Regions from separate parts of the Homo sapiens genome. Here region 2 is linked to region 1. The links come from fine-mapping of genetic effects on gene expression. Tissue or cell type: esophagus muscle. Region 1 holds a variant in brackets; the other region holds the start of a gene. All regions are shown on one strand. Distances are from middle to middle.

Region 1 (8,199 bases):
TGTATTACAGAAGTGGTCTTGGGAAATCCATGTGTCCTCATGTAATCATCATCCATTGAAATTGCTCCCCAGTACCTAACAGGCCGCTTTTCTTTTCTTTTTTTTTTGTTTTGTTTTGTTTTGTTTTGTTTTGCTTCTTTTTTTTGAGATGAAGTCTTGCTCTGTTGCCAAGGCTAAAGTGCAGTGGTGAAATCTCGGCTCACTGTGACCTCTGCCTCCTGGGTTCAAGCAATTCTCCTGCCTCAGCCTCCCAAGTAGCTGGGATTATAGGTGCATGCCACTATGACTGGCTAATTTTTTGTATTTTTAGTAGAGACGAGGTTTCACCATGTTGGCCAGGCTGGTCTCGAACTCCTGACCTCAGGTGATCCCCCTGCCTTGGCCTCCCAAAGTGCTGGGATTACAGGCATGAGCCACTGCACCCGCGCACCCGGCCCGCTCCTTTTCATCTCTACAAAGTACAGTGGGCACTATTGTGGATTGATGGGTCATGTCAACCCAGATTTATGTTTAAGCCCTGTAAACATTGAGGAAACATTGTCACCCCCAATGTGATGGTATTTGGAAGTGGGGCCTTTGAGAAGTGATTAGGTTTAGATGAAGTCACAAGGATGGAGTCTTCATGATGAAATTAGTGTCCTGATGAGAACAGGAAGAGAGAAAAATCTGTCTCTCCCCATACATGCTCTGAGAAGGGCCATGTAAGCAAGCACACAGCCAGAGGGCCATTGTCTACAGGCCAGGAAGAGTGCCTTCACCAGAACCCAAGCATGCTGGCACTCTGTTCTCAGACATCCAACCTCCAGAACTGTAAGAAAAATGTCTATTGCTTAAGCCACCAGCCTATGGTATTTTGTTATAGCAGCCTGAGCTAAGACATACACAGTCCTCTGATAGTATCATTTCTTTCTTATTTGACTTCAGTGACACCAAGCTCTCCTGGACTGCTCTTTATCTTTCTGGCCACACTTTCTCAATTTCCTTGCAACCGCCTCTTTTCCTAACCCTTCCTAATCTCTTTCTTCTTCCACCTACCTGCAAGGCACCTTGCTACTCTTACGGTCTGTAGACCAGTGAAGGCGTCACTTGTGAGCTTGTCAGAAATGTGAATTTCAGATTCCACCCAAATCTGCCAAATCTGAATCCGCCATTTAGCAGGTGGTACCTAGGAAAATCTGAGAAGCCCTGCTCTTTAGGATTTCAGTTATCAACTGAATGATCTGATCTCCAAGTATACATCTGGACACTAGATCTCTCTCCTAGGCTCTTGACCAGTTCATCTAACAGGTCCACTTAGAGGTCTCACAGGGATATCACACTTTTATCCATCCAGAATCTGACTTCTTTTTTCCCATATATGCCTCTCCTTCTTTGAGCAACCAACAAAATATAGGACCTTTCCAGAAAGTTTTACTTAAGAATGCCCATTTAACCACATACTCCTGGTTTAAATGGTTTCTTTGGGGTCAGGGCTAATTGTCAGCTGGTGGGCACTGGTCTGACTAGTCCCTTGTTCTACTGGTCTCTGATTTCTCAGTGTTATCAGTCTCTTGCTAAATATTTTGATTTTTACCCATCAAGTCACATTTGATTAGTAACAAGTCTAACTTTTTATCTTCTGTGATGTTTCAAGGTATACATTTTATAAATATATTAAGTATTAATCATTATATTTGTTATTAATTCATTACAGATGCAAGTGGTAAATAAATATTTTTAATGGTGAGGAAATATGATATTCTCTAATTTTAGTGTCAGATTTTCAAAATATTTGTGAATGACCACAGTGAGTCCAAAGGAAGAACCATCAGGAATGCAGTGTGACCTGATATGTCACATGATTGAATCACACATCTTTTTGGGAGAGAGAAATCAGAGACAACGTAACTGTCCAACAAGAGGGGATTGGTGAAGTCAGTTACAGTGCATTCAAACAATCAAATACTTTGCAACCATTAAAATGATCAGACAGAGTACATTTATTAACATAAGTATACATCCATGGTATCATTATGTGAAAAGAGCAATATAGATTAAATGATCGCGGTTTCATTTTTTTTTAAATTATGGTTAAGTGTACATAACATAAAATTTACCATTTTAACCATTATTAAGGGTACAATTCTGTGTCATTAAGTACTCAATAGGAAAAACAAACTGTTTTCCTGTCTAGTCTATTCTCAATACTTGAGAAAACTTTGACATCAAAGGTATGGGGTTTTCCACACTGAGTAGTCCTCCAGTTCTCTACAGATACCACCTAGGTGTCCTGCAATTTAACTCAGTTCTGAAACTATCTACCTGGAGATAGCAGATCCCACAGATTAAGGACTCCATCCCATAAGACAGCCCCCACTTCAGATGCCAATTCCACGTCCTGGTTGGCACCCATACTTTGACCCAACCTGCTTTAAATCAGAGGTTCCAACCCCCTCTTGGGTTCGATCTTTTGCTAGAATGGCTCACAGAACTCAGAAAACCAATCTACTTACTAGATTAGCAGTTTATTACAAAGGATATATTGAAAGATACAGATGAACAGCCAGATGAAGAGGTACGTAGGGCAAGGTCCGGGAGATTCCCAAGCTTCTCTCTTACTGGACCTTTGGCTTGTGGATGCATTCTTGTTCACCAGCTTGGAGGCTCTCTGAACACTGTCCTTTTGGGTTTTAATGGAGGCATAATTGCATAGGCAATAATCATTAACCATTGGTGGTTAAGTCAATCTTCAGGCCCTATTCCTTCCCCTAAGGTCAAGGGTGGCTTGGGTTGGGGCAGAAAGTTCCAACCCTCTAATCACAAGTTTGGCTTCTCTGCAAACATCCTCCAACCTGAGGCTGCCCAGGAGCCTGCAGACACTAGTCATCTCATTAGTGTGCAAAAAGAAACATCACCTACAAGATTTGAAGTTTTCTTAAAATTCCTTATGATGGGGAGCGCAGAGACCAAATATTTCTCACTATGTCAGAAGTATGTTCACCATTCGCATTGTTGTGTATTAATCACCACCATCCATCTCCAGAACTTTTTCATCTTCCCATACTGAAACTCTGTGCCCATTAAATACTAACTCCCCTTTCTGCTCTCCGTCAGGCCCTGGCAACCACCATTCTACTTTTTGTGTCTATGAGTTTGACTACCCTAAGGACCTCACGTAAGTGGAATCATACAATGTTTGTAGTTTTGTGACTAGCTTTTTCACTTAGCATAATGTCTTCAGGCTTCATTTATTGTGTAGTATATATCAGAATGTCCTTCCTTTATAAGGCTGCGTAATCCATTATGTGCCACATTTTGCCTATCCATTCATCTATTAATGAACATTTGGGTTGCTTCCTCTTTGGGGCTATTGTTAATAATGTGTCTATGAACATGGGTGTACAAACATTTGTTTGAGTCCTGGCTTTTAATTCTTTTGGGTATATATCTGAAAGTGGAATTGCTGGATTGTATGGCAATTCTGTTTTTAATTGTTGTTTGTTTTTAAATTTTATTTGTTTATTATTATTATACTTTAAGTTCGGGGTACATGTGCACATCATGCAGGTTTGTTACAGAGGTATACATGTGCCATGTTGGTTTGCTGCACCCATCAACTCGTCATTTACATTAAGTATTTCTCCTAATGCTATCCCCTCCCCCAGCCCCTCCACCCTCCGACAGGCCCTGGTGTGTGATGTTCACCTCCCTGTGTCCATGTGTTCTCATTGCTCAACTCCCACTTATGAGTGAGAACATGCAGCATTTGGTTTTCTCTTCTTGTGTTACTTTGCTGAGAATGATGGGTTTCCAGTTTCATCCATGTCCCTGCAAAGGACATGAACTCATCCTTTTTATGGCTGCATAGTATTCCATGGTGTATATGTGCCACATTTTCTTTATCCAGTCTATCATTGATGGGCATTTGGGTTGGTATCAAGACTTTGCTATTGTGAATAGTGCTGCAATACACATACGTGTGCATGTGCCTTTACAGTAGAATGATTTATAATCCTTTGGGTATATACCCAGTAATGGGATTGCTGGATCAAATGGTATTTCTAATTCTAGATCCTTGAGGAGTCACCACACTGTCTTCCACAATGGTTGAACTAATTTACGCTCCCACCAACAGTGTAAAAGCGTTTCTATTTCTCTACATCCTCTCCAGCATCTGTTGTTTCCTGACTTTTTAATGATCACCATTCTAACTGGTGTGAGATGGTATCTCATTGAGGTTTTGATTTGCATTTCTCTAATGACCAGTGATGATGAGTATTTTTTTATAAGTTTGTTGGCTGCATAAATGTCTTCTTTTGAGAAATGTCTGTCCATATCCTTGGCCCATTTTGATGGGGTTGTTTGTTTTTTTCTTGTAAATTTGTATAAATTATTTGTAGATTCTGGATATTAGCCCTTTGTCAGATGGATAGATTTCAAAAATTTTATCCCATTCTGTAGGTTGCCTGTTCACTCTGCTGATAGTTTCTTTTGCTGTGCAGAAGCTCTTTAGTTTAATTAGATCTCATTTGTCTATTTTGGCTTTTCTTGCCATTGCTTTTGGTGTTTTAGTCGTGAAGTCTTTGCCCAGGCCTATGTCTGAATGGTATTGCCTAGGTTTTCTTCTAGGGTTTTTATGGTTTTAAGTCTTACATTTAAATCTTTTATCCATCTTGAGTTAATTTTTGTATAAGGTGTAAGGAACGGATCCAGGTTCAACTTTCCCCATATGGCTAGCCAGTTTTCCCAGCACCATTTAAATAGGGAATCCTTCCTCCCTTGCTTGTTTTTGTCAGGTTTGTCAAAGATCAGATGGTTGTAGATGTGTGGTGTTATTTCTGAGGCCTCTGTTCCGTTCCATTTGTCTGTATACCTGTTTTGGTACCAGTACCATGCTGTTTTGGTTACTGTAGCCTTGTAGTATGGTTTGAAGTCAGGTAGCAGGATGCCTCCAGCTTTATTCTTTTGGGTTAGGATTGTCTTGGCTATGCAGGCTCTTTTATGGTTCCATATGCAATTTAAAGTAGTTTTTTCCAATTCTGTGAAGAAAGTCAGTGGTAGCTTGATGGGGATAGCATTGACTCTATAAATTACTTTGGGCTGTATGGCCATTTTCACGATATTGAT[C/T]CTTCCTATCCATGAGCATGGAATGTTCTTTCATTTGTTTGTGTCCTCTTTTATTTCATTGAGCAGTTTGTAGTTCTCCTTGAAGAGGTCCTTCACACCCCTTGTTAGTTGGATTCCTAGGTATTTTATTCTCTTTGTAGCAATTGTGAATGGGAGTTCACTCACGAATTGGCTCTCTGTCTGTTATCGGTGTATAGGAATGCTTGTGATTTTTGCACACTGATTTTGTATCCTGAGACTTTGCTGAAGTTGCTTATCAGCTTAAGGAGATTTGGGGCTGAGATGATGGGGTTTTCTAAATATACAATTATGTCATCTGCAAATGGAGACAATTTGACTTCCTGTTTTCCTGACTGAATACCCTTTATTTCTTTCTTTTGCCTGATGGCCCTGGGCAGAACTTCCAATACTATGTTGAAAAGGAGTGGTGAGAGAGGGCATCCTTGTCTTGTGCCAGTTTTAAAAGGGAATGCTTCCAGTTTTTGCTCATTCAGTATGATATTGGCTGTAGGTTTGTCATAAATAGCTCTTATTATTTTGAGATATGTTTCATCAATACCTAGTTTATTGAGAATTTTTAGCATGAAGAGCTGCTAAATTTTGTCAAAGGCCTTTTTTGCAAATATCAAGATAATGTAGTTTTTGTTGTTGGTTCTGTTTATGTGATGGATTACATTTATTGATTTGCATATGTTGAACCAGCCTTGCATCCAAGGGATGAAGCCAACTTAATCATGGCGGATAAGCTTTTTGATGTGCCACTGGATTCGGTTTGCCAGTATTTTATTGAGAATTTTCACGTTGATGTTCGTCAGGGATATTGGTCTAAAATTCTATTTTTTTGTTGTGTCTGCTAGGTTTTGGTATCAGGATGATGCTGGCCTCATAAAATGAGTAAGGGAGGATTCCCTCTTTTTCTATTGATTGGAATAGTTTCAGAAGGAATGGTACCAGCTCCTCTTTATAACTCTGGTAGAATTCGGCTGTGAATCTGTCTGGTCCTGGACTTTTTTTGGTTGGTAGGCTATTAATTATTGCCTTAATTTCAGAGCCTGTTATTGGTCTATTTAGAGATTTGACTTCTTCCTGGTTTAGTCTTGGGAGGGTGTATGTTTCCAGGAATTTGTCCATTTCTTCTAGATTTTCTAGTTTATTTGTGTAGAGGTGTTCATAGTATTCTCTGATGGTAGTTTGTATTTCTGTGTAATGACAATACACAGAAATTGGTGGTGACATCCCCTTTATCATTTTTTATTCTGTCTATTTGATTCTTGTCTCTTTTCTTCTTTATTAGTCTGGCTAGCAGTCTATCTATTTATTGATCTTTTCAAAAAACCAGCTCCTGCATTCATTGATTTTTTTTGAAGGGTTTTTTGTGTCTCTATCTCTTTCAGTTCTGCTCTGATTTTAGTTATTTCTTGCCTTCTGCTAGCTTTTGAATTTGTTTGCTCTTGCTTCTCTAGTTCTTTTAATTGTGATGTTAGGGTGTCGATTTTAGATCTTTCCTGCTTTCTCTTGTGGACATTTAGTGCTATAAATTTCCTTCTACACACTGCTTTAAATGTGTCCCAGAGATTCTGGTATGTTGTGTCTTTTTTCTCATTGGTTTCAAAGAACATCTTTATTTCTGCCTTCATTTCGTTATTTACCCAGTAGTCATTCAGGAGCAGGTTGTTCAGTTTCCATGTAGCTGTGCAGTTTTGAGTGAGTTTCTTAATCCTGAGTTCTAATTTGATTGCACTGTGGTCTGAGAAACAGTTTATTGTGATTTCTGTTCTTTTACATTTGCTGAAGAGTGTTTTACTTCCAACTATGTGGTCAATTTTGGAATAAGTGTGATGTGGTGCTGAGAAGAATGTATATTCTATTGATTTGGAGTGGAGAGTTCTGTAGATGTCTATTAAGTCCACTTGGTCCAGAGCTGAGTTTAAGTCCTGGATATCCTTGTTAATTTTCTGTCTCATTGATCTGTCTAATATTGATAGTGGGGTGTTAAAGTCTCCCACTATTGCTGTGTGGGAGTCTAAGTCTCTTTGTAGGTCTCTAAATACTTGCTTTATGAATCTGGGTGCTCCTGTTTGGATGCATATATAGTTAGGATAGTTATCTCTTCTTGTCGATTGATCCCGTTACCATTATGTAATGGCCTTCTTTGTCTCTTTTGATCTTTATTGGTTTAAAATCTATTTTATCAGAGACTAGGATTGCAAACCCTGCTTTTTTTCGCTTTCCATTTGCTTGGTAGATCTTCCTCCATCCCTTTATTTTGAGCCTATATGTGTCTTTGCATGTGAGATGAGTCTCCTGAATACAGTGCACTGATGGATCTTGACTCTTTATCCAATTGCCAGTCTGTGTCTTTTAATTGGGGGCATTTAGCCCATTTACATTTGAGGTTAATATTGTTATGTGTGAATTTGATCCTGTCATTATGATGCTAGCTGGTTAGTTTGCCTGTTAGTTGATGCAGTTTCTTCATAGTGTTGATGGTCTTCACAATTTGGCATGTTTTTGCAGTGGCTGATGCCGGTTGTTCCTTTCCATGTTTAGTGCTTCCTTCAGGAGCTCTTGTAATTATGGCAGGCCTGGTGATGACAAAATCTCTCAGCCTTTGCTTGTCTGTAAAGAATTTTATTTCTTCTTCACTTATGAAGCTTAGTTTGGCTGGATATGAAATTCTGGGTGGAAAATTCTTTTCTTTAAGAATGTTGAATATTGGCCCCCACTCCCTTCTGGCTTGTAGGGTTTCTGCTGAGAGATCTGCTGTTAGTCTGATGGGCTTCCCTTTGTGGGTAATCCGACCTTTCTCTCTGGCTGCCTTTAACATTTTTTCCTTCATTTCAACCTTGGTGAGTCTGATGATTTTGTGTTTTGGGGTTGCTCTTCTCGAGGAATATCTCTGTGGTGTTCTCTGTATTTCCTGAATTTGAATGTTGGCCTGCCTTGCTATGTTGGGGAAGTTCTGGATAATATCCTGAAGAGTGATTTCCAACTTGGTTCCATTCTCCCCGTCACTTTCAGGTACACCAATCAAATGTAGATTTGGTCTTTTCACATAGTCCCATATTTCTTGGAGGGTTTTTTCATTTCTTT
Region 2 (8,175 bases), 25 kb before region 1:
AAAAAATACAAAAACTAGCCAGGCATGGTGGTGGGTGGCTGTAGTCCCAGCTACTTGGGAGGCTGAGGTGGGAGGATCTCTTGAACCTAGGTAATCAAGGCTGCAGTGAACTGTGACGATGCCACTGCACTCCAACCTGGGTGACAGAGTGAGGCTCTGTCTCAGAAGCAACAAAAGAAGAAAGAAAGAAAGAAAAAGAGGCAAAGAAAGAAGGAAAGGAAGAAAAAAGAGAGAGCCAGAGAAAAGAAAGGAAGGAAGGAAGGAAAGAAGGAAGGAAGGGTGAGAGAAAAGAAAGAAAGAAAGAGAGAAAGAAAGAAAGAAGAAAGAAAGAGAAAGAAGGAAGTAATGAAAGAAAGAAAAAAAGAAAAAAGAAAGAAAGAAAGAAAGAAAGAAAGAAAGAAAGAAAGAAAGAAAGAAAGAAAAATTTGTTTCTTGGTGTCTAAGGAAGAATTTCACTATTTCCTTGTCCATGTATTGCCCTAATCTGTACAGCTGACTACGTAAAATACTTGCATCTTATTTATGCTGTTTGTATTTAGTCCTAAAATCTTAATTAGTCATGAGAACAAAATTTCAAATTCTATTTAGGCAAAAGCCTTAAGGTTTCATCCTCAACCCCCAACCTTCCAGTAGCTTCTATCTTGACCTGGACACCCCAAATATTACTTATCTGTAGCCAATGTTCCCTTTTTTTCTGTACTGAGTCCACACATTCTTGTTTGACCAAATAACAGGAACAAACAATTCTTTTCATAATGGATGTACCCTAAGGTGTCAGGCTTCTCAGAATCCTATCTGAAAATTAATTCCACTGAACCATGGTGCAATAGGATTTTAGTTAACACACGTGTTATTTATTGGCTACAAATGGTAGGGATTTGACAAAATATTCTGTGCCTCCAGGCCAGAAAAGTACAAATAGTACTCAATTCTGAGTAGGGAAGAAGAGGAAGGGAGAAAGTTAGAACACAACTATTAATGCATGTGGAGGTACCAGATCAGCTGACCACATCAGCGAAAGGTTACTTAACTAATAATGATGTACCATTAATGCCATGTCCCTATTAAAGAAAAAAAATATTCAATGTCACTTGTTACAGCATGGTAAAGAAGACTATTCAGGACCATTGAGACAGATACAGGGACCACTACAACGAAGACTTGCAGTAGGGTAGAGAGATGGGGCTCCACTATGAATACAGCAGAGGAAAATCGGAATTTATAGCCAAGAAACAGGATATGGGACTCTAGTTAAATCGACCTAACAGGATTCTTACTAAAGACAGGCCAAGGTGATTAGATATCACCTGGAGGACAGTGGAGGATGAGGAACCCTTGGGTGATCAGTTGTCAATGGGAAGGGACGTTATTGCCAAACTGATTTTGCCGGGTTCTTTGATAAACTGGAATTTACAAGGAAATACACACATGGTCTTAGGAGAAAGTTCAGGAGCCTGACTAAAGTTTGGCCAAGGAAAAAAATCTTTGTCATTCCCCAATATTTTTAAGGTAAAAGACTATTAATACTAATAAGGATTAATATTTTTTACACATGTATAATATGCAAGGCATTGAATTAAATACATTCTATAGATTAACTCATTTTGATTATCACAAAGCCTCGATGTAGGTTTAATTTTCATTCTATTACTTGCTTTTAGACAGATGAAGTTCTGACTATGACTTGGAAAAGCTGGGTATCTGGGCTCATTTCTTTACCAAAATCCTGGCCTCTAAGCGTCACTGTCCAGTAGAACTTTCTGTGATGAAGAAAACGTTTTGAGTGCTATCCAGTATGGTAGACATTAGCCACATCTTGGAGTGAAGCACTTGAAAGGTGATTAGTGCAACAGACTAGTAGTAAAAAAGAAAAAAGCAAAACACACACAAGAAACCTCAATTTTAATTACGATTATAATTAATTAACTAAAATGTAAATAGCCATATTTTATAGCCGTGTTGGGACTGTGCAAACATAGCACATTTCCATCACTGTAGAAAATTCTGTTGGACAGTGCTATTTGGAAGAAATGTTGCTCCTTCCCTTTCCTCCTAGGTTGGATTCTAGGGTTCCTTTGCTTTGCTTTTCTTCTGCACAGCGATAGCAGTCCAACATTCTCCACCCCCAATCCTCCAGCCTCAGTGAAAGGAGATTGTTTTGCTTTGTGCATCTCCCTTTCTCCACTTCCATGCTGCCTGTCAGCAGCTATGTCAGGTCTTGAGCGTGGAACCCCAAAGGGGTAGGCACACAGAAGTGACCCGTCTGTATCCGGCACTGCCTATACGCATTGCACTCACCATCACCATCATCAACCCACAGTTACTGAACTCGTAAAGGATGAAAATCATCCTGCCAGAGATAGAATCAGACACACAAAATCTGAACTTCTAATGAAACAACAACATCAGTGACACAGCATTGAATAGAATAAACACAGTATTAGCTTTGGTCTTTGCTAGAGCCCCCTGTAAGTGGTGACTTAGACGAAAGGAAGCCTTGTGCGGTGTCCTAGTCTCCAAAACTTTAAAAACTGTTGTCCTACATTATTTAAATGGAAAGTGAGACTTATTTGCCACCCAAAGCAATGTTTAACTGAAAGAAGCATTTTTCTGAAACTCAAAGGTATTCAAGCCTTTAACCTAAAGACCTTCACGGCTGAGAGGTCAGGGCTCACTCATGGCAGCCTCTACATTTACAGGTTCATTTTCAATGCTAATGAATTCTTTTACAAGCTGTATTTGTTCTTTCTTTTGTGAGTTTTGAACATTTATTCACTAATCATCACTTAAATCTAACCTAGGGTTTTTTGCAAGTGAAAATAGGACTTAAATTCAGATTTATAGTTAAAGGGCAGGAAACTGAGAGGAGGGGGATGACTAAAAATAGCCAGAGGGTAAAATGAGAAAGGACTATACTAGACTATTTAAAAAAACCCCTGGCTTGCACAGTGGCTCAAGCCTGTAATCCCAGTGCTTGGGGAGGCTGAGGCAGGAGGATCCCTTGAGCCTAGGAGTTCGAGACTGCAATGAGCTATGATCGCACCACAGCACTCTAGCCTTAGCGACATAGTGAAATCCCTTCTTTAGAAAACAAACAAAACGAGACTCCTTCCCAAAAAAAAAAAAAAAAAAAACATACCTACGGTGCCTTGCTGCGTGGCAAATGCTCCCTACTGTTCATCAGTAACTCTTTGTCGGGCAGATCATGAGGTCAGGAGTTCGAGATCAGCCTGGCCAACATGGTGAAATCCCGTCTCTACCAAAGATACAAAAAATTAGCTGGGCGTGGTGGCACGCGCCCGTAATCCCAGCTACTCCGGAAGCTGAGGCAGGAGAATCGTTTGAACTAGGGAGGCGGAGGTTGCAGTGAGCCAAAATCGCACCACTGCACTCCAGCCTGGGCGACAGAGCGAGACTGCTTCTCAAAAATAATAATAATAATAATTCCAAAAAGCCTAATTCATTTTGAAATTTTGACATACAGCGAAATCACCAGGGAATCTTGCAAAAAATGCAGATTCTGATCCGCGGTTGGGCCTGAGATTCCGCATTTTTAACAAGCACCCAGGTGATGACCTCGCTGTTGGTCTACGGGCCACTCTTGAAGAAGTGAGGACGTAGGCTCCAAGATATTGGAACCAGACCTTGTCAGTTCAGAGGCCTTGCTTCTGACAAGGAGAGGACTTTACAGAAAGTTCGCCTGGAACCTGTCCTACGTGGGGTACGTCCTGGCAGCTCCCTTTTCAGGCTTTGAGTCAACGTTTGGGGAATTGTATTATGTACCGGGCGCCTACACCTCACTCATTTCATACTCGCAGCAACAACATGAAGTGGGCGCTATCATCCTTTGTTTTACAAGCAAAAGTGAGGCTCAGAGAGTTAAATTGCCCAAGGTTATGAGATTTTCAGATGCGTTGAACCCAGGTCCTTTTGACTCCAAGAGATAACGCTTTTCACTAGCATTCTGGAGCTTCAGTTTCCTGTGCTGTGAAATGGGAAGGATTGGCTAGCAGGGTCCGGATCCCTGCCAGATACACCTAAAGGAGGCCTTGTATTTTTTCTCGAGATCTTGCTCTTTGACCCTGAGGGGAAAAGTTCTTTTTGGGAACACCGAGCTCCCCTCGGCTTGCCGAGGTCAGGGGTCATGGCTCTTCCCGGGGAGGGTCCGGCAGTCCTAGAGCGGTTTGGCTGGGGACACAGAAAGCCGGTGCATTACATAACCGCGAGACGTCCCTCCTCCGCTGCGCCCCTCGCCCCTAGCCAAGCCACAGTACTTAGAGCGGATCCCCGCGCTAAATCCTCTTTGCCGGCCAGGCAGAGTCCCCGGCGGAGCTGGCGGGGCTGAATGAGCCGGTGCATTTCGAAGGCCGAGCACTGGGATTTTCCGCGCTACGCTTCCCTCTCCCGGCGTTGCCAGCTAGGCCCCCGGCCCCAGCCTCGCCGGCGCCTCCGCCCAGTCCGCTCCCCGCCCCACCGAAGCGCGGATCGCGCAGCCTGGGGCCCGGGAAGGGGCCACTGCGCAGGGACGCGGCTCGGCGGGTGCGCCCCGGGGGCATGTCCGCGCGCTACCGCCAGGGCTGCAGTGGTCCCGGCGAGGTGAGGAGGCGGCGGGGCCGGGCTGGGGGCGGGTGTGGCAGGAGGGCGGGCGGGGCATGGGGGTGGTCTGCGCGCTCTGGGCGGGCTGCAGAGCGCTGGAGCGCTGGAGCTCTGGGCTGTCCCGGGCTCAGTCTCGCCGGCGGCCCCCGCTCCCGGATCCCCAGCGCCCTGGCCAAGAAGCTTCCTCGGCTCCCCCTCTTCCCTCTCCCTGACACGGTTGTGCAGAGGGCGCGGTGGCTCAGGTGACACGGGCATCCTTCAAGGAAGGGCGGCGGGACGGCGGGGCGCTGGCGCTGTCGTTGGAGCTGGAGGAGGACGGGGACCCTCCATTCTCCGCTGCCCTAGCGCCCATCCCGCGCCGGGAGCCTGGGACCCTAACTTGGGTGCGTCGGCGCGCAGCTTGGGTTGGGAGGGAGACACGTGCTCACTTGCCCTGTCTGGGTTGGGTCTGCGCTGCGGCCGAGTTTTTGGGCAGGTGGCTGGAGAACGAGCGGCTTTGATCTCCATCTCTTGTGGTTTTCAAATGCAGACTTCTCGGTGGAATAGAGACCATCTTTCTTCTGGATTTTATGTTTATAGTACATTTTAAAAATCTCTCCCCGTCCCCCACCTCAGACAATAATATTTATTTCCCGTGTGTGCTATATTAAAAACACACCGGCTTTCAGTGGATTGAACTCAATTTCTCAGTTGCTTCTTGTCCACAAATAAACCAGTGATACCTGTATTGTGGACTCGGAAAAGCGTTCGTAACAAAATTTTGAAGCACAATTTCAGTAAGTCCTGGGGCTATTTGGTTAGTCTTCCGTTTTCACACATCAGCATTCTAAACCTCTTATACTATTTATTTATTTAGAGACAAGGTCTCGCTCTGTCGCCCAGGCTGGAGTGCAGTGGCGCGATCTCAGCTCATTGCAACCTCCGCCTCCCCGGCTCCAACGATCCTCCCTCCCCAGCATCTGGAGTAGCTGGGACTAAAGGTGCGCGCCACCACGCCCGGCTAATTTTTGGATTTTTTTTTTTTTTTTTTTTTTTTTTTGCAGATACAGGATTTCGACATATTGGCCGGTTTGCTCTCGAGCTCCTGGGCTCAAGCGATCTGCCCGCTTTAGCCTCCCAAAGTGATGGGATTACAGGCGTGAGCCACCGTGCCTGGCCATAATTTTTAAAAATGTCTAGTCAGGTGAGTCCTGCCAGGAAACTGGTTAAACACTCTCCTTTTGAAGAGCCTCTAATTAGTTCATCCTACCTGGTTCTTTGCTCAGAGCTAGGCACTCCCGCGGCGTCACCAGCTTAGCCCAGGGGGAAAATCTTCCGGCCTTTCAAATTCAGAAACACATTCGCTCCACAGGTGTAAGCTCGCTAACAGTTAAAATCATCAGCTAGCTGCCCTTGCATTGTTTGTCGCTCCCCCTCCATAAATGTCGTGCCAAACTGTGGCTAATGGTGTTTGACATCCTCCACCCCCTGCGCCCCCAAGGTGACCGGATGTTTGCTGAAGAAATGAAGGATGTAAAAGAGTAGTGGTAGTAATTAGGTGAACTGGATTTAGTCACTTATAATTACAGGGTTTAGAGAAACTTTGAAACTGAAAGGCTTTGGAGACCATCTACTAAATTCAAACTCTTCACGTTACAGCCCAGGAAGCTCAGATCCAGATTGGCAAGGATTGGCTGAATTCATACTGTTAACTGGTGATGGAATCAACACTAGAATCCAGATCTTCTCATTCCCACCTAACTCAGTTTTCCAAGGCATATTGCCTCTAGGCATTTTGAGCAAAAATAATATGACTAGCATCACCTAATCACATCATTTTCCTGTTCTTATTTTTTATGTTTTTTTTTTTTAACTGATGGGATTCTGAAATAGATGAGAGGTTGATTTAATCAAATTGCTTTTGTGGCACAATTTTTAAAGGTGCAAACCTTTAATTTTAAGTAATATTTTAAATTATTTTTATATTATGGATATACAGATACTTCTCAGGTGAATGCCCAGAAGAAGAAAATTAGTCCAAATAGATGGGAGTAACTCTACCCCCATCTTTCCTTGGAGTCTTTTCTGATTCTCAGCACCCTCTATGGTAATGATCGATCAGAAGTAAAAACATGAATTATAGTGTTGAAGTGTTTTATATGAGGACTGTTTGTTTATTGTGATTAATACTATGACCAAAACAAAGCTAAGAAAGGAGTTTCAAAGTGACTTATTTAACATTGCATTGCACTGCATATTTTTCAATTTAGTTCAATTGAGCAGATATTTATTGAGTGCCTACTGTATGCCTAGTGCTGTTCTGGGCATTTGGGATATGTCAATGAACAAAACAAAGAACTTTGATCCTATAGAGCTCAAGTTGCAATTTATTCACTAGAATTTTTCCAGGATTTCTTAGGCAGGTACAAGAGAATTTCAGTTTTACCTAAGCAGGAAAATAAACATAAGTGATCCAAACTATCTTCCTTCCAATCCTGCAATTCTGAGAATCTTATAATCATGGAAAAAAAAAAAACTAAAAACGACAACAACAACAACAAAAAAACAAATTCAGGTGAAGTTACTTTGACTTTTATGAGCTGACATTTTACTGTAAGTGAATTGCAGTTCCCACATTTGGTTATTTAATATATGTTCATTTGGAGTCAATGAAATTACATTTCCTTTATTGCAGGGAGATCACCTTGGTGACTAAACTTGAAGCACGGGATGATTTGTTTTCTTAAGAGTGTTAGTGGTACCATGTTAGTATTGGAGACTAATTAAATTAGTTTATAAGATGTTGCTTTTTATTTATTTATGAAGATGGTGTTCTGTTGTTATTTTGTCTCACTTTACATTTTGTCCCCCACTTTCCTCCATATTCATAGACTATTAGACATTCCAGTTTTAAGCATTTTCTAATTCTCTCAATTGCTTTTTCTTCAAAACAGCATAGTTTGCAAGCTCAGGCATGTTTATTGTTTTTAACAAAGGCTTATCGAAATGAACTTGGCAGTTTTTCAGTCGTATACAGCCAAAGAAAAGTATTCAGTGCCGCTTTTGGGGTTGTTTATGCATTCCTCACCTAACCAGTTGCTTTGCTTTTAAAAATTGCCAATTTGGAAGCTATTTTCTTATGAGTACCTTTCCAGTGTATATAAAAAGTCACCCATTGAAATGATATAATAATTTAATTGATGAAAACTAAATACACAGTTGAAGAGGTTGGGGGATTTTGAACAGAAAGATTTTCCCTCTGATAATATTTTTAATGTGCTCTACATCAAAGGACATCAGAAAGTGTCATTATCTAACAATGTCCTGTTTGAAGGTGGTGTCTGTTGAACATTTGGGGAACAGTCACAATTTCTGATGCATGCTAGGCACCTGGAGTAGCTGATTTTTTTTTCTTCATTCACCCACCACTGTGCCCCATCAGATACATATCCTTCCTTCATTTACCGCGCATTGACGAGTAGGGTTAATTGCTGTAGCCAGGTAAGATGTTGCATGAAATTAATTAATTATTTAATTAGTGTGCTCATTCATTTATTAATTTAATGAATATTTATTGAACTTCTACTTCTTATTAAAAGA

What was found. PIP is the estimated chance that this variant, and not a neighbour inherited with it, causes the effect.
Region 2: it holds the start of SLC16A12, and the variant in region 1 is fine-mapped to the expression of SLC16A12 in esophagus muscle (GTEx, PIP above 0.99).

Annotation. Positions count from the first base shown.
Region 1 is chr10:89,507,038-89,515,236 of GRCh38, reverse strand. All of the region lies in intron 2 of SLC16A12 (solute carrier family 16 member 12), which reads left to right. Among named protein-coding and RNA genes, the nearest start is that of SLC16A12, 24 kb to the left of the region's middle. The variant C/T (reference allele first, on the strand shown) is at 5,107.
Region 2 is chr10:89,532,105-89,540,279 of GRCh38, reverse strand. SLC16A12 (solute carrier family 16 member 12) reads left to right here and starts at 4,686. Exons shown (of 8, transcript NM_213606.4): 1 at 4,686-4,838; 2 at 5,640-5,779. RefSeq lists an enhancer at 5,520-6,419.